7 linked regions of the Homo sapiens genome follow. The protein of the gene in region 4 purifies or fractionates together with the protein of the main gene of each other region. This does not show direct contact. Each region holds a gene or a part of one and is shown on either strand. Other genes may lie near its edges.

Evidence for each region.
Region 1: the proteins of TMEM130 (region 4) and INTS1 purify together in Homo sapiens (affinity purification with mass spectrometry; one large-scale study listed by BioGRID and IntAct). This does not show direct contact.
Region 2: the proteins of TMEM130 (region 4) and POM121 purify together in Homo sapiens (affinity purification with mass spectrometry; one large-scale study listed by BioGRID and IntAct). This does not show direct contact.
Region 3: the proteins of TMEM130 (region 4) and GOLIM4 purify together in Homo sapiens (affinity purification with mass spectrometry; one large-scale study listed by BioGRID and IntAct). This does not show direct contact.
Region 5: the proteins of TMEM130 (region 4) and PCDH10 purify together in Homo sapiens (affinity purification with mass spectrometry; one large-scale study listed by BioGRID and IntAct). This does not show direct contact.
Region 6: the proteins of TMEM130 (region 4) and XPO5 purify together in Homo sapiens (affinity purification with mass spectrometry; one large-scale study listed by BioGRID and IntAct). This does not show direct contact.
Region 7: the proteins of TMEM130 (region 4) and TMEM131 purify together in Homo sapiens (affinity purification with mass spectrometry; one large-scale study listed by BioGRID and IntAct). This does not show direct contact.

The regions. Positions count from the first base shown.
Region 1 is NC_000007.14:1,480,390-1,483,889, forward strand, and holds part of INTS1 (integrator complex subunit 1), read right to left. Parts: intron 3,465-3,500; coding exon 3,353-3,464; coding exon of another isoform or gene 3,312-3,352; intron 2,319-3,311; coding exon 2,157-2,318; intron 1,100-2,156; coding exon 953-1,099; intron 545-952; coding exon 446-544; intron 53-445; coding exon 1-52. UniProt on the Homo sapiens protein: Component of the integrator complex, a multiprotein complex that terminates RNA polymerase II (Pol II) transcription in the promoter-proximal region of genes.
Region 2 is NC_000007.14:72,942,095-72,945,446, reverse strand, and holds part of POM121 (nuclear envelope pore membrane protein POM 121), read right to left. Parts: coding exon 1,925-3,352; intron 1-1,924. UniProt on the Homo sapiens protein: Essential component of the nuclear pore complex (NPC). The repeat-containing domain may be involved in anchoring components of the pore complex to the pore membrane. When overexpressed in cells induces the formation of cytoplasmic annulate lamellae (AL).
Region 3 is NC_000003.12:168,029,925-168,033,424, reverse strand, and holds part of GOLIM4 (Golgi integral membrane protein 4), read left to right. Parts: intron 1-572; coding exon 573-905; intron 906-3,388; coding exon 3,389-3,500. UniProt on the Homo sapiens protein: Plays a role in endosome to Golgi protein trafficking; mediates protein transport along the late endosome-bypass pathway from the early endosome to the Golgi.
Region 4 is NC_000007.14:98,856,515-98,860,014, reverse strand, and holds part of TMEM130 (transmembrane protein 130 isoform b precursor), read left to right. Parts: intron 1-3,500.
Region 5 is NC_000004.12:133,162,794-133,166,293, reverse strand, and holds part of PCDH10 (protocadherin-10 isoform 1 precursor), read right to left. Parts: intron 3,318-3,500; coding exon 3,012-3,317; intron 1-3,011.
Region 6 is NC_000006.12:43,548,539-43,552,038, reverse strand, and holds part of XPO5 (exportin-5), read left to right. Parts: intron 1-585; coding exon 586-741; intron 742-1,027; exon of another isoform or gene 1,028-1,069; coding exon of another isoform or gene 1,070-1,071; intron 1,072-2,104; coding exon 2,105-2,146; intron 2,147-2,460; coding exon 2,461-2,550; intron 2,551-3,500. UniProt on the Homo sapiens protein: Mediates the nuclear export of proteins bearing a double-stranded RNA binding domain (dsRBD) and double-stranded RNAs (cargos). XPO5 in the nucleus binds cooperatively to the RNA and to the GTPase Ran in its active GTP-bound form.
Region 7 is NC_000002.12:97,814,449-97,817,948, forward strand, and holds part of TMEM131 (transmembrane protein 131 precursor), read right to left. Parts: intron 860-3,500; coding exon 751-859; intron 1-750.

The sequences.
Region 1 (3,500 bases), about 97 Mb from region 4:
TGGCCTATGGGCTGCTCTGGGCTGCTCTTTGGTTTGGGTGCCTCTGTGCTGTCTGCAGAGACAGGAGAACTGTCAGTGGCTGGACACTTTCTGACCTGCTTCCAGCGGTGGGAACTGTACAAGCCATGGCGAGTCCTGCCCGGGGACTGTCACCCAGGAGGAAGAGCTCAGACCTGGGCTCTGTGTTCCCCAAGGACCCCAGGTCTCGCTCAGGTCCACAGGGATCTCAAGACTCTGAACAGGAACGTGCATGCTGGCCAGAGGCAAATGCTGCCCAAAGACAGGCTGAGAGTTTCTGTGGGGGCCCCTCTCAGGTGGCATCAGCAAGTGTGCACTGCCCTGTGTGGCTGTGCAGGCCCCGTCCCCCTCCCCAGGCTGGGTCTCTGTGTTGGCCCCACCCCTCCCCAGGCTGGGTCTCTGTGCTGGCCCCACCCCTCCCCAGTACCTCGGCGGGGCGGCAGGGAGGCTGTGAGCAAGGAGTGGAAAGTCTGGCCTCCGGAGGCGCCGCGCTCATGCTGGACCTCCACCAGGTGGGCCATGTAATCTGCAAACCGTAGCAGGGTCACACCTGGGCGCGGCCAGGGGCCAGGGAGCAGGTCCTTCCCTCTCCACAGAAACCAGAGTTGGAGATGCCCCCACCGTCACCAGCACTTCCCAAGGACTTCAGAAGCTGGGTGAGCTCAGTCAGCACTGAGGCCCCAACAGCTCCCTCCAAGCTCAAAACACGGCCCTAGGGGGTGCCTGGCCCCAGGGTTGGGGCAGGCCCAGGCCTCGGCTCCCTCCTGACTGTGCCAGCCTCACCAACCCACAGGTCTAAGCCTGCCCTCGAGTGCCACCCACACCCACCCGACCTCGGATCACCCACCCGCTCGCACCCAGGCCCCAAAAGCCTGGCCGGGCTGGGGCTCGGTCAGCGTGTGTGAACCCACTCCGCAGGTCCCTGGCATCTTACTCTTGTCCATGATGTTCTGCTCCAGAGTCTGGGGGTCGTGGGCCACTGCCTGGTCCAGGAACTGGAGGAGTTTGCTCATGCTGGACACGGGGATGCCAAACGACTGCACGAACAGCAGCAGCTGCTGCGGCTCCAGGTCCTGCAGGGCTGAGGGTGCACGCGCTCCGTAACGCCACCCAAAACCCGGGCAATGCGCACTCGGGACCCCACCCGAGACCTGGGGCTGCCTGTGTGCAGTGACCCCACCCACCTGAGACCCTGGGCCACGTGGGCTCGGTGACCCCACCCAAGACCTGGGGCAGTGCACACTCGGCAGCCCCACCTGAGACCCTGGGCCACGTGGGCTCGGTGACCCCACCCAAGACCTGGGGCAGTGCACACTCGGCAGCCCCACCCGAGACCTGGGGCAGTGCACACTCGGCAGCCCCACCTGAGACCCTGGGCCACGTGGGCTCGGTGACCCCACCCGAGACCTGGGGCCGCACAAGGGGGCAGCGTGTCGGGACCACCTTGCACCCTGGATGGCAGCTGTGTGGGCCCCATCCCCAGGGGTGGGTGGGCGCTCCAGAGGGCCTATGGTGGCACGGCGCAGTACACTTCCGAAGCTGCACGCAGGCTGCTGTGACTATCTTCTCTCAGTGCTCAGGGCGCTCTTGCCCCGAAGCCATCGGTGGCTTCCGGGGGCACACAACAGCCTAGACCCCTTGGCAGTCATGGGTTTCCAGAGCCAGCCCCACTCACTCACCAAGCTGCCCCCAGTGTCTCCTCACTGTGAGCAGGCACCAGCCCTACTGACCTACGTGGGCCCAGGCCCCTTGCTCAGTCCTTGCTGGGGTCCCCGGCTGCAGCTCCAACCCCCAAATCCTTCAGGGACCCACCCAGAGGCCCCACCACTTCTCCTCCTCCTCTCCAACCCCAGACCACTTTCTCTTTTTTCCATCGAGGACCTGTTTCTCACTCTAGACCCCTGAGCCTGACAGTAAGACCCTCTCGGACGGGGCCAGCACAGGCTGCCCTAGGTCTCCTCCCAGGGTCCAGCACAGCCTGCTGTGGCCAGGACATATGGTCTGCAGGATCCCCTGAGGCTACCCGGCCAGTCTTCTCCTCTGCCACAGCCGGAGGCTGCCCAGGCCCACAAGGAGCAGGCAAGGGGCCCGGGACCCCTGAGTCAGCAGCCCCTGCCCAAGCCCAGCCTGGACCGTACCGGCGTCCACCAGGCGGAGCACCTCAGAACGGATCATGCGCAGCTTCAGCCAGTCAGGAAGCAGCAGCGCCTCCTCCGATGTGTCCACCAGGAAGGCGGTGGGCAGTGGCTTCTCCTCCGGAAACCAGATGTCCAGCAGCGCCTGGAACTCGCTGTCGTCGGCTTCAGGAAGGACAACGGGTGAGCAGCCTTCAGACCCACCGGGGCCCAGCCCCAAGCACCGCTGGTGCCAAGGCTAGAGGCACCTCCTCTCCCGAGAAGGAAACTGAGACTTGGGAGGAGCACGGGGCTCCTGTGCTAGGTGAGCACTTGCTATGTGCGGATGCTTTGCGTAGGTGCACGCATTTGATCCTCACAGATGCTGCAGGAAGGCAAGCAGCATCACTGCCATTTTGTCGTGGCCAAGGGGACATGTGCGTGTCCCCATCCAGCCCCTGCCCTCGGGGCTTTGCTTGGCTGGACCAGGTCCCATCCAGCTCTCTGGCTCCGCAAAGCCACTGGGAAACCCCACAGGCCCAGGCCCACACAGGGCCAGCTTCTCCGGCTGCCCTTCCCAAGGGCGACGCCTGTGACTGTGTCTGCCTCCCAACAGGGGTCACCACCCACCCACGTCCACCCGAACCCCAGCATGAGGGTTCCGCCCCCTTCCCCCACTGACAGACACAACGGGGTGAACGTGGGAGCAGTTCATGGTGTCAGCCAGGAGTAAAGGGGAAGGCTGCGGCCGCAGAGGGCACGGCTGGGTAGGCGCTGGGTTCCAGACACTGCGCTGGCCAGAGCGTCCTCAGGGTCACTCGCCTGGGCCCCGGGGAGAGGACCCACTTGCCTGGCAGCCTCATGTCGCACCTCCACACGGTGAAATCCCGAGTTTGCCGCCTCCCAGGCACCGCAGGCCTACACGGTTAGGCTGGGGCAGTGAGGACTCTGACCCCAGGCTGTACCAGGCCCTCCAGCTCAGGGCTCTACAGGCTGGGAGGTCCCACCACGTGGGGATCTCCCACACGTCCACCAAGTGCTCAGAGACACGCGGGACGGACTGCAGCCTCCTCTTTAGGAGAGAAGCCAGGACACAGGGTTGAAGGGCTGGGGGGCTTCCCGCCCAGAAGCAAGGCAAGGATGCGGAAGCCGCTGGGTGTGGTCAGGGCTGTGGCCCACCTGGCACGAAGCTGCCCCTCCCGGGGCCTGTGGCGGCTCACCTCGAGGCGGGCCCAGCGTCAGCAGGATCACCATGGCATGGACCACGAGGATGTGCATGGTGGCTGTCTCCCCGCTGCTCCAGCGTAGGAAGACCTGGTCCTGAGACTCCGACTGTGGGAAAAGAGGTGGAGTCAGGCCGTAAGGTTC
Region 2 (3,352 bases), about 26 Mb from region 4:
GCAGCTGAGCCAGACAACCGAGTCTTCATGCCTGGTGCCCCAGCTCAGCCTGCTTCTCCCACCCGCTAATGGCCACGCCAGGGCAGAGAAAAAGCCCCCCTGCCCCGCAGCCACCTCGTGGGCCTCCTGACCATCGCTGCAGAGGGGAGTACTCTGGGGCCCCCGCCTCCTAGCGTACCTGGGTTGGCTACCTCCTCTGTTCAGGCCTTTTCCCCCAGCCACCGTCCCCTCCCCTCTGAAGCCTGGTTTGTCCGTCCCGCGTCTTTTGTGATGCCCCGTGGTCCCCTCCCTTCCCCGGCCTTGCCCTGACTGGCTCTGGCTGCCTGCCCGAGGCCCTCTCTGGCAGCCCCTCTGCAGGGATGGCTGCTCTCAGGGCTTGGCCTCCGGCCCGGACAAGAGGAAGCTCCCTGTGCTCCCACGCTGCTTCCACACTGTTTCTCTTCCTTCCCTAAATACCGTAACTCAAGTTCAGATCACTTTAATCTGCCATGTCCTCATGTCACCTGTCAACTGCCAGGTCACTCCCTGATTCACAGAGGACCCTTGGCTCACTGGCTTCCTTCCCATCACCACTCACGGTGACTTCGCCCTGTGAGGCTGACTGATGGTCCTCTCAGCCCCTCAACCCTGCCACCCCCATGACCTCCTCTCCCCGACCCCTGCCACCACTCCTGCAGCCACACTGTCACCACAACTGCTCCGGCTCCCGAATCTCCTGTAGGCACCACCCCTCCTGCAGCTGACTTCACCCGCTCTCCACTCCTGCACCCCCTGAGCTGCATCGGGGCACTGACCCGCTGCCCCTCCTGCTGTGCTTGCTGGGGTCTCCATGGCCGGGTGGCACCAGCTGTCCGCTGACCTTAGGTCTACACCCACAGTGTCGCTGGGAAACACATGCCATGCTAACTGGCCTCACTTTAACTTCACAATCACAATTTTCCAGCCCACAAACTGCCTGGAAACTGATCACACTTTTTAATATGATGTTCCTTTCCCCCACTGTCCAAAATGACTATTTCAAAAGACCCCTTTTTTTATACACTTTATCCTGACCCTCTCTCTCCCAGATTTTCTCTACTTCACGAAGCAAACAGAAGCCATGGGATCTACATTCATCTTCCACATGGGAGGAACCATCACTGCATCCTTCTGCCTGATTCTGCAATGGTTTTCCTGAACACTTAAGACCCAAACACCCAACCCTGGCCACAAACAATCCTTGCCTCTTGGCCTCCTTCCACACCACTGCTTTAGCTCCTGCCCTCCTGCCATGCTTGTCTTTGTTCTGCTCTTCAACATACCAAACATGTTTCTGCCTCTGGGCCTTTGCATGCGCCATCCTGGGCCTGAAAGGCATGTCCACTTGTGCTGTGCCCACCCCCATATTCAGCTTACGGTTTGTTTTTTGAGACAGAGTCTTGCTCTGTCACCCAGGCCGGAGTACAGTGGCATGATCTTGGCTCACTGCAACCTCCAACTCCTGGGTTCAAACCATTCTTGTGCCTCAGCCTCCTGAGTAGCTGGGATTACAGGTGGGTACCACCACGCCCGGCTAATTTTTTGGTATTTTTAGTAGAGACAGGGTTTCGCCAAGTTGTCCAGGCTAGTCTTGAACTCCTGGCCTCAAGTGATGCACCCTCCTTGGCCTCCCAAAATATTGGGATTACAAGCGTGAGCCACTGCGCCCAACCTTCAGCTTACAATTGTTAACTACTCAGAAGGCCTTTGACCAGTTAAATCCACAATGGCTCCTCCAGTCATTACTACGTTAGCAAAACATGTATCGTTCCCTGGCATCTCACTGAGTTCTATATTCAGTGCCTGTCTCTTCACTGCCACAGCATAAGCTCCCCGAGACCACAGGCTTCGCAGGCACAGCTTTTCAGTGTCCGGCCCGGTAGCCCAAGTCCACGCCCCTCCTTACCTCCAAACACAGGTTTGCTCTCAGTTGTGCTGCTCACGTTGAAGGCAAACGGTGTGCTCTGGCCGGTGGTGCCCAGGGCGTTCTGACCTAAGCCCCCTGCGAAGGGGGTGGAGGTGGCTGTGCTCCCACTCTGTCCTGCTCCAAAGCTGAAAGCTCCGGTGGTGGTGCTGGAGCCTGGGGTGGCCACATTGATCCCAAAGCTCCCACTGCCAGCGGGGGCTGCCGAACCCCCAAACGTGAAGGGTGATGGTGTTGTGCTGCCAAACACCGAGCTGCTGCTCCCGCTGCTGGCGGTCTGGGTGGTGGCTCCAAAGCCGGAGCTGGTGGCTGCACCGAAGAAGACAGCAGTGGAGCCGCCAAAGGCGGGCTGTGAGCTGGCGGGAGCGCCGAAGGCCGAAGCCGTGGCTTTCAACCCAAACGCCGAGTGCGTGGCACCGCCAAAGATAGGATGGATGGGCGTAGGCACGTACGCAGGCACGACCTTGATCATGGACGGAGGTGCAGGTGTGGGTGCAGCAGCCGGGGCTGCAGAGTTTCCAAAAGTGAAAGAGCTGCCAAAGCTGGGGGCAAGGGCCGGCTTGGCGGCCCCCGGTGGCTGCCCCTCAGCGGCCCCAAATGCGGGCTGGGGGTTGGCTCCCGGATATGATGGGAGCGGGGACTTGGCGCTTGAGCCAAAGGGAATGTTGAACGTGGGGGTGCTCGTGTTACTGAACGTCAGAGTGGGCTGGCTGCTGGTGGCCGGGGCGGAGGTGGCGAGGGTGCTGCCAAAACCACTAAAGTCGGCAGCGCTGCTGCTGGTGGCCGTTGGCACGGCAGTGTGCAGGGACTGGCTGAAGGTGGTGACTGTGGTGGTTGTGGGCAAGGCAGGAGGTTTGCCAAACTGGAATATGGAGCCCATGGCCGGGGTGAAGCTGGCAGCAGAGGCCTGGGGCGCCCCGAAGAGGAAAGGCTGTGAGGCGGCAGTGGCGGTGCTGGTCGTGGTACTCACACTGCTGCTGCTCACACTGTTTATGCCAAAGCCAAACGCAGGCTTCGAAGCAGAGTCTGTGGATGGACTGGCAGAGGTGATGGGAGCCACAGCAGAGGTGGCGCTGGCCAGGCCAGTGAAGAGCGGGGCAGTTGTGGTGGGAGCAGTGGCGGGAGTAGTTGTCTGCTTGAAGAAGGGAGCAGGCAAGGGCACAGATGCAGGTGGCCCCATGCTGCTAAAGACAGGCTGGAAGGTCGGGGCTGTGGTGCTGGTGGTCGTGGGGAGGGAGGAGCTGGAGGGCGCTGTGGCTGTGACTGAAGGGCCAGGCGGTGTGGGGCCTTCCTTCTCACTCTTGGGTGGAGCCGTGAAAATGGGCTTGAACATGGGAGGTGCTGAAGATGCAGCAGGGGCGGCAGGGCTGGAAGGTGAGGTGTTCTGTGTTCCAAACAGGAAGCTTTGCT
Region 3 (3,500 bases), on a different chromosome or scaffold from region 4:
ACTGTGTTAGCCAGGATGGTCTCGATCTCCTGACCTCGTGATCCACCCGCCTCGACCTCCCAAAGTGCTGGGATTACAGGCGTGAGCCACCGCGCCCGGCCAATGGCATTCTTTTTTAAATTAGTAAACCAAACTAGTAAAAACTAAACCCAACTCCTCAATTTTATTTCATCCTTCTCTTTTCAAATAATTACTGAAAACAAAATTTACATTGAAGAAAATTATGTAAACATTTCATCACTTGAAGTTTGAGGTTTTGTTCCTTTTTATTCTAAGGGAAAATAGGAATTAGAGTACTTCTGAGATATTGGTTACTTGGAGGTTTTATTTTCCAGGTTATTTACTGTATTCTTCACAGATGAAGTTTTGCTTATATTATGTCTATTTTATAAGTGAGATTACACAGTAAGAAACTTAAGTGACTCCATTGCAGCCATAAAGCCAGGACTATATATATTTCTAGACACCTTCTTCTGTTGTAGCCCCATGCCCCATAGACATGGAAATCAAGAAATTACATCATTACTTTTGAAATTGGAAGAGTGTCATTCCCAGTGATGTGCTTGGCCTAGGTGTCTCGAAATAATGATGTGTGGCAGAACCATGAAGCAGTTCCTGGAAGAGCAGAAGACACAAAACTCTATGCTCCCACCCATAAGGAGGCAGAATTTCAGGCTCCCCCAGAGCCAATCCAACAAGAAGTGGAACGCAGAGAACCTGAGGAGCATCAGGTGGAAGAGGAGCACAGAAAGGCCCTGGAGGAGGAAGAAATGGAGCAGGTCGGGCAAGCAGAACATCTTGAGGAGGAACACGATCCATCACCAGAGGAGCAGGATCGGGAGTGGAAAGAGCAGCATGAGCAACGAGAAGCAGCCAACCTCCTGGAAGGGCACGCGCGTGCTGAGGTATGAAGTCACCCGCTTCTGGTATGGTGTACTGGGATGGAAAACCTGGCTTTATTTTTACATATTAAGGTAATATATCACAATCTCTAAAATAGAAATGTGAGTGATTCTACTAAACATTATATGCTCATATTTAAGTTTTCTCTTGTAATGTTAATAGCATAGCTATTCGCATACCTCAGAAAGATGATTGGTGATGAGAGAGCACAGCTGTTGTATGTGTGCATTCTTCTTTTTGTCAGTTGTACACAGTCAGAGATTCATTCTCACATCACCTTAATAGAGTAGAACAGGTGAGTACCTGATGGGGCACCTTCCCAGCTTGTACCCAAGTTTTGTCTTGAGCATCTTGAGGCAGAGAAAAATCTCATTTTCTATGATCAGGCGTCCTCCTCTCCCTGTTCATTTATTGTCAGTATGTTGCCTTTTGTATTCACCTTCAAGGTGGTTATTTAATTATCAAAAATCTGATTTTACTACTTGGAGATATTCTACTAGGTGAGCATATCTAAACAGCCTCTGCTCAGGATCCCTTACTGGACACGCCACTTACACGTAAGACTTTTCCCTTTCTTAAAAAAAAATGGCCAGGATTATTATAAATGATGCTTTAAAAGAAAACTCTACCCTTTCTTCTTTTAAACCAACAGTTAGTGCAGCTAGATGCCTTTCTTTTACTGTCTCTAAACTGAGTCTCAATAGTAGGTTACCTGGCCTTTACATGGGTGTGGATCACCTTCTATTTATAACTCTGAAGTTTTATTCGGCCTCAGATTTTCTGAGACTTCAAGCCGCTTGAGGCTTTAGGCTAAGCAGGTGTGAAGACCTCTGTAGTTGCCCTCTTAGGTAGTTGCAAACTTAACCTCAGAAAGCTTCTTCCAGTCTTGTGTCCTTCCCCAATAGGGGAAGTAATTCCCCACCAGCTTTACTTCCCAACCCTCTACCTCTTTCCTTAAGTGAGAATTGTGTGTGCTTTTGTTAGTTGGGGTATGGCAGGGAGGATGGGTAGTAGCTCAATGGGGTACAGACACTTTTTATTGATGCATAATATATGTATATATTTTCAGAGTATGGGCGATATTTTGAAACATTCATATAATGTATAATGATCAAATCTAGATAACCCATCACATCAAACCTAGATAACCCATCACATCAAACATTTATCTCTTTTTTATTTTGGGAGCATTCAAATTCTTCTAGCTGTTTTGAAATATAAGATAGATTATTGTTAATCGTAGTCACCCTACTGAACTACCAAACATTAGGTCTTATTCCTTCTCTCTAACTATATGTTTGTACCATTCATCAGTCTCTCTTCATCCCCCTTCCCAGCTTCTAGTAACCACCAATCCACTCTATCTTATCAATATCGCTTTTTTAAGCTCCTACATGAATGAGAATATGCAATGTATGTCTTTCTGTGCTTGAAGTTTTTCACTTAACATAATGGCCTCCAGTTCCATCCATGTCACTGCGTATGACAAGATTTCATTCTTTTTTATGACTGTGTATATGTACCACATTTTCTTTATCCATTCATCCGTTGATGGATGCTTAGGTTGATTTCATGTTTTAGCCATTGTGAGTAATGCTGCAATAAACCTGAGAGTGCAAGTATCTCTTCAATATAGCAATTTCCTTTCTTTTGGATATGTGCCCAGTAATAGGATAGCTGGATCATATGGTGGTTCTATTTTTAGCTTTTTGAGGAACCTCCATACTGTTTTTCATATTGGCTATACTAATTTACATTCTCACCAACAGCGTACGAGGGTTCCCCTTTCTCCACATCCTCACTAGCGTTTGTTGTTGCCTTTTTGATAAAAGCCATTATAACTGGGGTGAGATAATATCTCAGGGAAGCAGAGTTTTAAGAATTGCTGTATCAGATTTCCCTTTAATCAGAAGGCACCATCTTCTCAGCCATTCTTAGTTTCTTTGAAAAAAAATTGAATATCTGCTTTTCCACTATTACCTGGAATGTGGCTTTTTTTTTTTTTTTTTTTGGCTATGCTTAGCCTGGGATTGGTATATACATTACTAGAGTTAATTAGCATCCCTCGGTCTTTAACTGTTCATGGAAAAAGCCTTAGGCGTAGCATAAGGTCACAGATTGCCCAGTTAATGTGAAGTTACCAAAGTTACCAACTACTTGTTTATATCAGAGCCTTGTGAACATAAATTTTACAGTTTGAAACTGTTATCTTCGGTTGTCCCTTCTGTTCCATTTGAGAAGGGAGCACATTGAAAATCTGCCTTAATAGCAGTAGTTGGAAATATCAGCTGCTAAAAAAGCCAAGGGTGATTCAGAGAAAGTTGGGAAATAGGAGTTTTTGGACTTCATGTATAATCACAGTTCACCTGACAAATAGTCGTTAATAAACCAGCTCTGCCTCCTGAGTTTGTCAGGAGAAACAAATGAAGAGAAAACCCAGAGGAGCTAACCCCTCTTGCTCTGCACCAACTCTTTTTCACCCTAGGTGTACCCTTCAGCCAAGCCAATGATCAAATTCCAATCACCCTATGAGGAACAGTTGGAACAGCAGAGACTGGCAGTGCAGCAGGTGGAGGAGGCCCAGCAGCTGCGGGAAC
Region 4 (3,500 bases):
TCACTGCAACCTCTTCCTCCTGGGTTCAAGTGATTCTCCTGCCTCAGCCTCCCCAGTAACTGGAACTGCAGGCTTGCGCCACCACACCTGGCTAATTTTTGTATTTTTTTTATTTTTATTTTTTTTAGTAGAGATGGGGTTTCACCATGTTGGCCAGGCTAGTCTCAAACTCCTGGCCTCAAGTGATGTGCCTGTCTTGGCCTCCCAAAGTGCTAGGATTACAGGTGTGAGCCACCATGCCTGGCTAATTTTCATATTAAATTTAATTAATTAATTAATTAATTTATTTATTTATATTTTTTAGTAGAGACTGGGTTTCACCATGTTGGCCAGGCTGGTCTTGAACTCCTGACCTCAAGTGATCCTCCCACCTTGGCCTCCCAAAATACTGGGACTACAGGTGTGAACCACTGCACCCACCTGAAGCTCCTCTCCTTTCCCTGCTCACCCTGTCTCCTTTCAAACATCCTTCAAGCACCTCCTCTCTGCCACGACTGGGGGTCCCGGAGAACACTGGTGAATCAGCCACTAGCCCTGCCTTTGTGGTGTCTTCACCTAATAGAGGAGGCCATTGGTGCCCAAAACAGCCATTTAAGGAAGGTAAAGGTACATGAGATTTTTTCCCATTTGACCTCGAAGGGTACCCAGCCAACCCTTGGTGGATACGAGGTAGAACCCAGGTGCTCTGGCTTCGTTTCTCTTTATTGCTCCTTTTTAACTTTTTGTCTTTTTTCCCCTTTTTGGTGGAGGAGAACAGGGTCTTGCTATGTTGCCAAGGCTGGTCTTGAACTCCTGGGCTCAAGTGATCCTCCTGCCTCTGCCTCCCTAAGTGCTGGGGTTACAAGTGGGAGCCACCATGCTTGGCCCTACTCCCTTCCTCCCTCCCTCCCTCCCTCCCTTCCTTTCTTCCTTCTTTTTCTTCCTTTCCTTTCTTTCCTTTCCTTTTTCTTTTTTCTTTCTTCTTTCTCCCTTCCTTTCTTCCTTCCTTCCTTCCTTCCCCCTTCCTCTCCTCTCCCCTCCCTCCCTCTCTCCCTCCCTGTCTTCCTTCCTACCCTCCCCTCCCCTTCCCTCCCTCCCTTCCTCCTCCCAAAGTGTTGGGATTACAGGGGTGAGCCACTGTGCCCAGCAAAACTCAGAATGTGGATTTCCTAACTCTTGGTGACAAAAGCAACCTGTGGTCAGACACTCAGGCTAGAGTACAGTGGTGTGATTATAGATCACTGCCGCCTTGACCTCCCAGCCTCAAGCACTCATCCCACCTCTGCCTCCTGAGTGGCTGGGATTACAGGCATGCACCACTACACCCAGCTAATTTTAAAATATTTTTGTAGAGACAGGATCTTACTATGTTGCCCAGGCTGGTCTCGACCTCCTGGGCTCAAGAGATCCTCCCATCTCAGCTTCTCAAAGCATTGGGATTACAGGTGTGAACCACTGTGCTTGGCTTTCCTCACCCCCCGCCCTCCATTTTTAGAGACAAGGTCTTGCTCTGTCACCCAGGCTAGAGTGCAGTGGCACAAATCTGACTCACTGCAGCCTCAATCTCCTGTGTTCAAGGAATCCTCTTGCCTCGACCTCTCGAGTAGCTGGGACCACAGGCATGTACCACCACATCTGACTATTTTTTAAAATGTTTTGTAGAGATGGGGTCTCACTATGTTGGCCAGGCTGGTCTTGAGCTCCTGGCCTCAAGCCATCCTCCCGCCTCAGCCTCCCAAAGCACTGGGATGACAGGTGTGAGCCACCGTGCCTGGCCAGATCATCTCTTTAGATGCCAAAAAAGCGTTAGTATGAACAGAAACGAACATTCAATGTAATATCAATAAACTAGAAAAAGAAGTTGCTGGAACTAACAACTAACATTATACAGAAATGAACATTCAATGTAATATAAATAAACTAGAAAAAGAAGTTGCTGGAACTAACAACTAACATTATACTGAGTGGAGAACTTAGAATATGTTTTTGTTTTTGGCCGGGTGCAGTAGCTCACTTCTGTAATCCCAGCACTTTGGGAGGCTGAGGTGGATGGATCACTTGAGGTCAGGAGTTTGAGACCAGCCTGGCCAAAATGGCAAAACCCCGTCTGTACTAAAAATGCAAAACAAACAAACAAACAAAAATTAGCCAGGCATGGTGGTGTGCGCCTGTATTCCCAGCTACTTGGGAGGCTGAGGCAGGAGAATCGTTTGAACCGGGTAGGAGGAGGTTGCAGTGAGCTGAGATCATGCCACTGCACTTCAGCCTGGGTGACAGAATGAGACTCCCTCTCAAAAAAAAAAAAAAAAAAAGGATGTGTTTTTGTTTCTGTTTTTGAGACAGGGTCTCGCTCTGTTGCCCAGGCTGGAGTGCAGTGGCGTGATCACTGCTCACTGCAACCTCCGCCTCCTGGCCTCAAGTGATCCTCCCACCTCAGCCTCTTGAATAGCTGGAACCACAGGCCTGTAACATTACGACTGGCTAATTTTTGTATTTTTTGTAGAGACAGGGTTTTGCCAAATTGCCCAGGCTGGTCTCGAACTTCTGGGCTCAAGCAGTCCTCCCACCTTGGCTTCCCAAAGTGTTGGTATTACAGGGGTGAGCCATCGTGCCTGGCAAAACGTGGAATGTGGATTCTCTAACTCTTGGTGACAAAAGTGACCTGTGGTCAAATACCTCTGGGGAGTCGTTGCATTGAGATGTTGGGGGAACCTGGCTCTAGATGCAGGAATAAGACAAGGGTGCTCCTTATCAGGGTCCATCGATATTATCCTGAAAGTTCTAACTTACTTAGGAAAGTCAAGAAAATAAGTGCGGGCCTATGGTGGCTCACACCTGTCATTCCAGTGCTTTGAGAGGCCAAGAGGGTGGGGAAAGCTTGAGCCCAGGAATTCGAGACTAGGGTGGGTAACATAGTGATACCTCGTCTCTACAAAGAATACAAAAATTAGCCAGGGATGGTGGCACGTGCCTGTAGTCCCAGCTACTCGGGAGGCTGAGGTGGGAGGACTGCTTGAGCCTAAGAGTTCAGAGACTGCAGTGAGCTATGATTGCACCACAGCACTCCAGCCAGGGCAACAGAGCAGAACCTTATCTCTAAAAAGGAAAATAAAAAATAAAAAAAAAAGGGAGAGAGAGATAAAAAGTACAGTATAAATATTGGAAAGCAGACAATTTGCAGGAAAGACCATTTACTTGAAAAATCTGGATGGCAGCTTTGTCCAACAGAACCCTCGGCTTGGCTGGCACAGTGGCTCATGCCTATAATCCCAGCACTTTAGGAGGCTGAGGTCAGAGGATCACTTGAGCGCAGGAGTTCAAGACCAGCCTGGGCAACATAGTAAGACCTTGTCTCTACAAAAAATCATGTATTAGCCTGGCACAGTGGTACACGCCTGTGATCCCTGCTACTTGGGAGGCTGACACAGGTGGACTGCTCAAGCCCAGGAATTCAAGGCTGCAGTGAGCCATGATTGTGCCACTGGGTGACAGAGTGAGACCCTGTCTCAAAAAACAAAAAC
Region 5 (3,500 bases), on a different chromosome or scaffold from region 4:
TATGCTAATGAAAATTAAAGGTAAAGTAAAACTGAAATTCATTAACATTTAAGGTAAATCTAAATACGGCATTTCTGAATATATGGCCATGTTCTACCTGTTTAAATTTATTTACTCAATCTTTGAGTGTATCCCTTTGCTCCATATCAACTTAGCAAACTACAACATTATAGGAAAAATAAGAGAAAGCAAGCTCAGAAAGTGCTCATGAATAACTCAGCAAGTATTGAATGATGTGTTCAAAATTATTCCTGATTTTTAAAAAGTCTCCTTTTATTAAATACATCATGTATACTCTTCATGGGTCTTTTGTTAATACATTAAAATAAAAAGAAATGTAAGTGTAAGCATATTTTTAAGAACATGAAGTACATTATTTAATGTTTGCATCCATCTATTTTTGTGTAAAAGTTGTTTTCTTGCAGTTTTTAGTTTTAACTTTAGCAATCGGAGGTATAGAAATCAAAAGTTATTTGTACTGACATTGATCTCTTTTGTATTTTTAAGCATATCGTCATTTCCTTGTCATTATTGTATAAATGACAGTGACAGTCTCATTAGGCTTTTTAGAGCTTTACAAAAACATAACTAAATATACTGCTATTTTTCCTAACATCAAAATGTACATTATATTCATTATGAAACTGCATATTTAGCAAAAAAACTCTACAACTTTAATAATTATTCAAACATTCTGATTAAAAGCAAGTAGTGTCAATTTTTAGCTTTTTTAATTATGCAAGGGACTTACTTTAGACTTAGAAGATGACACTATTTCTATTCTGAATGAAAAAGGACACAAGTATCAAAAACTATCACCATATGAATTTGAGGGGCAAAATGGTCAGGAATAGTTTTGTTTTAGAGTTTGTATTATCAGACTAACTATAAATTTTTTATGATTATTAAGTCAGAGTCATGGTGTAATTTTAAATATAATTGGATGACTCTAAGATGACATTAAATACTAAAAGTTAAATTAAAAAAAAAAACCAGTCTAGACATGATTAAAGTCGTATGAAGAACTAAGAAGAGCAGAAGTGAAAACAACAAAATAGCTATTCTTCTGCAAATTTTCCACCACAGGTCACACGTCAACCCAAACCCTAAATTTTGAGCCGTGTGAACTGGCTAAAACAGATTAGGGAAAAAAACTACAATTAAAAACTAACTCATTCCAACATATGTATATTCATATATATATGAATATATGTATGTATATATATATGTGTATATATATGAATATATGTTGGAATGTGTTAGTGCATATATATACACATATATATGAATATATGTGTATATATATGAATATATGTATATAATGAATATATGTGTATATATATGAATATATATATAAAATGAGCAAATAATTAAAATTTTCCTGGTGAAATAATAGATGCATTCTTTTGATTTTTAGCAACACACATAACTGTTAATAAATTTCATAATCCCTGAATCAGATTTCTAAATGAAAGACCAGATTCTTAAGAAATAGAAAAATTTGCATTAAAATATATGCAGCATTAATATTTTAATAATAAAAATTGTTTCCATTAGTCTTATTAATAAAAAAATCCAGTCAGTAAAGAAAAGACATCTGTAAATGTTAAAAATTCCAGGTCTATGTGTAAGTGTAATTTCACCAAGATTAGTACTCACTAAGAGCAAAAGAGGGCAAGTTGATTTTCCCACTATATTTGAAGTAGATTTACCTGTTATTATATGGTAAAAGCAAATATTTGTATTTATTTAGAAATGCAAATTTTTATTAATCTGAATCATATACCCTTCACTTTTTGCCTTGAAATGATTAATAATGTATTTCTATAATGTACATTCTTAGTTTAAGTGAAACAGTAGTTAAATATGCTGTTTAAAATTTGGAAAAGTTTTACTTTTAATAATAAATAAAATTTTGAATCCAGAATTCAATTTCAGAGGCAAAGATCGCATCATGTTCCTCACTTATTAAAGTTTGATTTTAGGCTATTTTAATTCACTAGCATGTGTGGATTTGTGAGTTAAACTTAAGACATTAGCATCCAAATTGCATTTTAGACATCTCAATATTTCCTGTCTTTAAGTATTTGTTCTCTCTTTGTATAACTTTAAAAAAATAAAGCAAAACAAATGATTTTTTGGTTCTGAAGTGCTAAAGTGGTACATCATGCTGGGGTATTTGTGGTTCTGAGTAATTTGAAAAGCTGAAAACAATCCTTCATAAAACACCACCTATTGTTGTCACTACAATGTATGCATCTAATAAAAGACCATTCCTTTAAGCATATAACACTTGTCTATTTGCTTTATCTATGTCCAGGTTAATAGCCACAACCTCAATGCATTCAATCTTTGCTTTTCACGTTATACTTCATAAAGGCTAAAATAAATATTCCTCTGTTTTTTTCCTTTAAGTTTTTAAAAACTCTTTTACTTTTCAATTTCATCAGTCATAAAAGAAATGACATATCTACAATCTGTCTCATCTTTCGTTCTAGCTTATAAGTTCCACAGTTATTTTTGTAGTAGATGAAATAAAACATTACGTAGGATGGATCTGCTATGTAAGTCATCTTTTGATTGAGTTGTTATGAGTTTTATCTTTATCAAACATTATTTATGTAGTTTGACCAAGATATTGAATTGCCAGTAATATTTATCCATTAACTAAAAGAAAAATATTTCTATTTCTCATTACCAAGATCCTCAAAGGAAATATATTATGGAATCTCAAAGCATTTTTATTGTTTGCAATGATTATATAAAATAATCAATTTGGAGAATATAGTCCTATATTTTGAAAGAGCTCAGTGCAATTATTAATGTCTCAATGTTAGAGGAATCTATTATTTTAAATAAAGAATATTGCCCTAAAGTGCTGCCAGCATCCAGTCACTTTTATCTTTATTTCTTAAAAAAACCTGAACTCCATTTTTACCAAAAAGAGTGGAATGTTGAACTTTATCTCCTCAAAGGGAACACTTTAACAGAGCCCTTTGTGTAATACTTACTCAAATATGGTGGTTTGTAAGGCGCTCGCGTATTAGTCAGCAGTCCATCCAGCTCCTTCCTCTCCAGAGTGCTGTGAAGGGCCTTCTCTTTGCCAAAGGTGGAAAAGGACCGCTCTGCCCCAGGCTGGGCTTCTGGAGTTTCAAACACCTCAGTGTCTGGAACAGAGTCCATGCCAGGAACATGCAGATTGCTGCGATAATCAGCAGCCTGGCGTCCATCAGAAGGGACAAAAGAAGGCATCCAGCACCGATCTGAGTGGCCCAGAGCTTTACATTCCTCAGTGCAATTGGAGAAGAGATCCATACCTGTAAGCAGAAAACAGAAACTACGGATGTAGTCTTCACCAACATGACCAGTTACTTAGCAGTGTAAGATTACAGGTAGCATAAAGGGTGACAAGTGAAGTTGTCTTAACAAATTTTTCCTGGCTTATCCTGACAGGAACCAAATATTATTTTGTCTCATTTTTGTTCATCACTTTAAAAAGG
Region 6 (3,500 bases), on a different chromosome or scaffold from region 4:
TGAAGAAATACAAAATTTAAGAGGTTTTAGGGAATAATACACTGCTGAGAAGATGGTAAGAAGGGCACGCACAGCTGAGTACGGTGGTTCACACTTGTAATCCCAACACTTTGGGAGGCCAAGATGGGAGGAATGCTTGAACCCAGGAGTTTGAGACCAGCCTGGACAATATAGTGAGACCTCATCTCTACTAAAAATTTAAAAAATTAGCCAGGCATGGTGGTGCGTGCCAGTAGTCCCACCTACTTGGGAGGCTGAGGCCGTAGGATCACTTGAAACCAGGAGTTTGAGACCAGCCTGGTCGACATAACAACACTTCTACAACATCTCTACAAAAATTTTAGAAAGTATCCAGGCATGGTGGTGCCCGCCTGTAGTCCTAGCTACTCAGGAGGCTAAGGCAGGAGGATCCCTTGAGCTCAAGAGTTTGAGGTTACAGTGAGTGATGATTGTGCCACTGTGCACTCCAGCCTAGGTGACAGAATGAGACCCTGTCTCTTTAAAAGATGAAAATAAAATGTAGCCAAAATGGTTATTTCTAAGTGGAGGCAGCCATTGTCAACCTGTTTTATGTCTTTGTTACAGGAAATTCCTGTTAATGATGGAATAGAGCTATTGCAGATGGTTCTGAACTTTGATACCAAGGATCCCCTCATCCTGTCCTGCGTCCTTACTAATGTCTCTGCACTCTTTCCATTTGTCACCTACAGACCAGAGTTCCTGCCCCAGGTCTTCTCTAAGGTATAAAGCCCATCTCCTTTGTAAATTTTATTTTGACATTTCTAAGTTAATTTTTATTTATTTTATTTTTTTGGAGACAGGATCTTGCTACATTGCCCAGGCTGGACTCAAATTACTAGTCTCAAGGGATCCTCACACCTCACCCTTCTGAGTAGCTGAGACTACAAGCATGCACAACCATGCCTGGCCTAGGCTAATTATTTTTGTAACTATTTTTAAAATTATGTGAGGCAAACTAATAAACACAGCTATTTATTCATTTATTAAATATCTACTCAGTACTTACTGTGGATCAGGTACCATGCTAGTGCCTCACTCTTTAGGAACACTCTGGGAAGAAAGGCACAAAAACAGTTAATGTTACCTATATGGCATTGCAATGAAGACTTGTATAAAGGAGAGTATTAGAGTGTGCTGTCGGGCAGGGAGGGGATTTATGAGAGGAAGGAACACTTTCCAGGTTTCCAGTTCAGTTGACTAGGTGGGTGATAGAGCCACTCCCTGAGTCAGAATACCAGATCACAAAGGAGAACGGGACTAAAGAAGAGAAAGCATGAGTATTTTGGAATACTGTGTTTGAAGAATATGTAGAACATCTTTATGGAGACATCTCACAATAAATTGGCTATTTGAGGTTGAAGATCTAGACTCTAGAAAGTAATGAGATAAAATTAAAGCATCATCATCATAGTAGTCCCACGACTAAAAGTGAAGTCTTACTGAAGTGATTATGTATGTAGAGTTAGGAGACATGTGAGTCAAGCGAGGAACCTAGTGAATCACCATCATTGGAGGAGTGGAGAAAAAAATGAGAAGCCCCCACAGAAGGAAAAAGAGCCAGAGAAATGAAGAAAATGTTGTGTCACAAGACCAGTAGGACTTCAGAAAAGTGGGCTCATTTGTTGCAAATTATTTGAGTTGGAGAATGCCCAGTGAGTTTCTTGACTACACTCTTGTCTGAGTTTAATTCCATAATAGTGGCCAAGTAAGCAGCCATATTTCATTGGAATGAGGAGTAAATGGGAAATAATGAAATGGAATAGAAGGGATAGACCATACAACTTTTGATAAAAGAAGAGAGAGGCGTTTCCATAGCCAAGTGCTTGGGTGATGGCATGAATTGTTCTGGGATCCTATTGTAAAATGTTTTGATGGTAAAATTGTGACTCCGATGACTCTTGTAGAGGTTATCTGAGAAAATGGACAGTATGAATAAGCTCATGCCCGTAGTCCCAGCTACTCAGAAGGCTAAAGCAGGAGAATCAGTTGAGCCCAGGAATTCAAGTCTAGTCTGGGCAACATAGCAAGATCTCATCTCTAAAACAAATAAACATGAGTGACCTTTTTTCCTCCTCTCCCTTAGCTATTTTCATCTGTCACTTTTGAAACTGTTGAAGAAAGTAAGGTAAGACCATTAATTAAACCAATAGATTCTAACTTCTTGAGTACAAATGTATGAATACCTGATACTCAGTTTATATTTTTATATAAATGGGAGGGGGTAGTAAGGGTGGTAGATTATCATATATGTTGTTTTGCCACTATAGGGCATACAAGAAACATGGATTCTTGGTGGCTATAAATGTTACTCCATTATACTCTTAGGGTTGTGAAAAATCATTGTGAATTTGCCCCTGACTGAGATATTCACATGAGTCTATGCAGCACCTGTATATTATATTAAAAGCAGCTCCGAGTTTGTTGAATGTCTCTTTTCAGGCCCCCAGAACCCGGGCAGTGAGGAATGTGAGGAGGCATGCTTGTTCCTCCATCATCAAGATGTGTCGTGACTACCCCCAGCTTGTGCTGGTAAGCTGCTGGACCCTGGCTGAAGTAGCCAAGTTTGGTTACATTTGTGTGTAAATCCAGCTTTCAGTGTACCTCACATAAAGAAAAAACTAGAAACTATAGCTTTGCATCATATAAGCATCCTTGGCCGGGCATGGTGGCTCACACCTGTAATCCCAACACTTTGGGAGACTGAGGTGGGTAGATCACCTGAGGCCAGGGGTTCGGGACCAGCCTGGACAACATGGTGAAGTCCGGTCTCTACTAAAAGTACAAAAAAATTAGCTGGGCATGGTGGTGCATGCCTGTAATCCCAGCTAGTCAGGAGGCTGAGGCAGGAGAATCACTTGAACTCAGGAGGCGGAGGTTGCAGTGAGCCAAGATCACGCCATTGCTCCAGCCTGGGCAACGAGCGAAACTCCATCTCAAAAATAAATAAATAAACATTCTTGAATTGGTGTTTTCTTAGTATACTTAGTAGTATAGTTAGAAATGTGATGGCAAATGTAATCTCTCTTCAAAATACAAATAGTTCTCTGCCATATAGATTACTAAGTTTACCCCTATAATTCTACAACTCTTTACTATGTGATGATCTTAATTACTACTGCCAAATGATGTGCCTGATCTTGAGAAAAGCAGATGCAAATCACAACCCTTTTTGGGGCATGGGGTTATAAGAAATTTAACATTACTCCAGATTACAAATTATCCAGAAATTTCTTCTCTGAATGCACAGCAGTTATCTCCATATATATATAGATATACATATATATCTATATATATATATAAAACAAGCTGATCTTTTCACAGTTGTAGTATGGGAAAGTGCAGTTATCCAAATACTCAAGACAAGAGCTATCTTCCGCCTAAATTGCCTTGCTTATTTAGGCAAAATAAAGACATATAACAGAATTACCAAATAATAACCTTATAGGCCTGACTTTCCTGGGACTGCTTTGGTTTTCTTC
Region 7 (3,500 bases), on a different chromosome or scaffold from region 4:
ATCCAAGTTCTTCTGTTGTAAGTAATAATTTACATTTAGCATTAGGGATTGTATTAAAGATTTAGAACTATAATATTTTAGTGATTGACTATATGATTTAAAACAAAATTTAGCTTGCAAAATACTGAAATTAATACAAACAACCATTCTCTAATGAATTATATGAATCATACAATTAGAATCAAAGACATATCAACAAAAAAAGCTTTACTTTGAAAAAAATCATGCTTATCACTGAATTACAAGGAGCTTTGCTAAAATGAATCTTTGCCAAGTTGAGTATTAAACTACTATTGGTTAAAGTACAATAGAAAATGAACATGTCACTTCCCATTTATAAAAAGTTGTAATTCTAGAAGTGTTTATGAATTTATAAAGGAATATAAAGAATTCTGTTTCGAGTGTCAAAATACTTTAATAATAGGCCACAATCACTTACATATTACAAACAAATGTCAGAAAGGAAATGGTTCAAATGATTTAAATAATATTTAAAAAATCAGATTTTTGAATCATTAAGTCTTCATTTAAGCCCAAATCCTATCATCCCACTTACCCTTTTCTTCTAAAAAAGTAAAATATAAACAAAATATAGGAGGTTTTCTCTTTTATAGTTGGGGCTGTTCTTTCAAAAAATAATTCCATCAAGTTTATGTGAACGTGGCTAGTATTTCTGCAGGTCATTTAGCAGGAAAATATAATTTACTGATTAGTAAAAAGTAATAGAATTTATTTTAAAAAGAAACTCACCCATCTAAAACTTCTGCTTGATATGGTATTTCAAGTTTAGAATAACTCTTTTCCTTTGCTTTAACTGTTATTTTCCCAGAAAACTGAGATGGCTTTTTTGCCTTCGATGCTGAAAGGAAGCATAAAAAATAATCTCTGTTACCTTTTACTACCAAAGAGAATTAGTGAATTTATGTAAATTGACAAAATCTTAAAAAAAAAAAAAGTTGAGCTTCCAAATTGGCCAACAGAACACTTTTTATAACATTTTAAATGAAACATCACATTTTTCATACAAAAGGGGGAAAATGTTTTATATTTCCTGTAATAAGATAAGCAGATAAGGAATTAGCTGGTGAGCATGGTTCAGGAGGTAAAACACTGTACCTAAGCTGCTTTGCTGTAGCCACAGGCTTTGGCTTTACTTACAGCAGAATTTCTCATCCTTGGCACTGTTAACATTTTAGGCCAGATTAATTCTTCGTTGCGGAGGCTGTTGTGTGTACTGTAGGATGTTTAGCAGCATCCCGGACCTCTACTTGCTAGACGGCAGTAGCATCCCTGCAGCTGTGACTACCAAAATGCCTCTCTGCATTGCCAGATATCCCCTTGGAGGCAAAATTACCCCCCACTTAGCCCTGCTGATTTACACTTGAACTGAGAAAGAAATAACATTTCTTGTATGGCCAAAGTCTTGCTCTATCACCAATAAAGTAGCATGGTATAAGAAAAGTCAAGAATTCAGAGCTCTTCTCAAAAACCAGCCAACCCTAAAACTCATGGTATAAGAGGAGATAAATCCCCTCCTGTCATCATATTATATTGTCCTCATCTTAGATGAAGTAAAAACTTCAGATTTCATAGCAGTTTTGAATAATCCTGGCTGGGTGCAGTGCCTCACATCGGTAATCCCAGCACTTTGCCAGGCTGAGGCAGCCAGATCACCTGAGGTCAGGAGTTCGAGACAAACCTGGCCAACATGGTGAAACCCTGTCTCTACTAAAAACACAAAAACTAGCCAGGTGTGGTGGCACGTGCCTGTAATCTCAGCTAGTTGGCAGGCTGAGGCAGGAGAATCGCTTGAGCCTGGGAGGTGGAGGCTGCAGTGAGCCGAGATTGCGCCATTGCACTCCAGCCTGGGCAACAAAGCGAGACTCTGACCCAAAAAAACAAAAATTAAAAAATAAATAAATAAATAAGGAATTACAGAAATTGATTCAGTTGGGTCCAATCTAGGTACCCATTAGATGGTTCTTTTCAAAGCAAATAAAGAAGCTGTTTATGTTTATCCTCTTAGAGTACTTTAGGAACACTTCCATTTATGTGAAGAATTCATATGTGAGTTCCGCAAATGTGTGTCATCCAACCTCATGACAAAAAAGAACAAGGAAATGGTATGACATCTAGTGTTTGACTATGGCAGACACAGACTTTCCATTTTAAAAATTCCCATTCAGCCTCTTATTTCTCTGCTTGCTAGTTAGCCATCTCTGGATGCTTTCAATTTTTCACTATTTGTTCTGACGTAAGACTGATTACAAGGGCCACATTTAAGCATTTCATGACATTGTATCATACATAGCAAATAAAGTGGTCAAAAAGCTCAAGAAAATTCTGTTGAAAATCATGAAGAATAACTTTTGATGAGAAAGATGCTTGATAAATGAACACTGCAGAGTTAATACATATATAAGGTGCATTCTAACAATATTAAAAGTTAAATAACACACACTTCCTGACTGATTTTCACAGCAATCTCAGAGGTATTTTGTGTGGGGATCCAGCATGGCAGTGGGAGAGGTGAATGGTGGGGGGATTTTCACATGATATTAAAAACCTACTTTTAAGAAATGTAGCATTTGCTCTTAAAGATGCTTTCCCTTTGCTGTTGTTATTTAATTTTACATATTTCTTTAAGAAACAATTATCTTAGAGCCTACGATCTCAGAAGAACCAACACTAATGACATCGCATTTATCTCAAGAAGGGAAAGATTAAGTGGGTGGTCAATACAGGAGCTAGAGAAGAGTAGCTCTTCACCCTTGCAGAGCAGCTCTTCACCCTTGCAGACCATGTGGAGAATTTTCCGGCACATCTGTGAAGGGTGGGTCCTAAATGCTCTTATCCTGGCTGGGTGCAGTGCCTCACGTCGGTAATCCCAGCACTTTGCCAGGCTGAGGCAGCCAGATCACCTGAGGTCAGGAGTTTGAGACCAGCCTGGCCAACATGGTGAAACCCTGTCTCTACTAAAAATACAAAAATTAGCCGCCTCCTCCTCTGTAAGGGAAGACAATGTACCTCGTGATACTGACACTGGTAGGCATGAATGTGGTCTCTCAGCAGCATAGAGAACACTTTACCACAAATGTAGAAATTACTGTGGCATTAATGTCTTCTATAATACTATTTCTTGACAACTGTATCATGAAGTATGCTGCCTATGTGATTTTTATTCCTTGAGAGTCCTCACTGAGCTCACAGGATGAACCCTGAGGCCAGCCCCACCTCCGTAGCTGCTCCAGACCCTCCCTAGAACTCTCCACAGTGAGCAGCAGGCATAGATACTCTCATAAACACTGTGTGAAGTGTGCCAGTGTCCTCCTACATTCATTGATCAAATATTCTCATCCGATGAGGAGCTGAGCTTTACTATGTGGACTCTGAGCACAGATGGCTTTATCATAAAGCCAAAGTTTAAGCTTAATAGCAGCTACTCAGTTGCATGGGTGCCTATGAAAAAAGCCCTGTTCAGAGGTTCAATTCTCATTTAA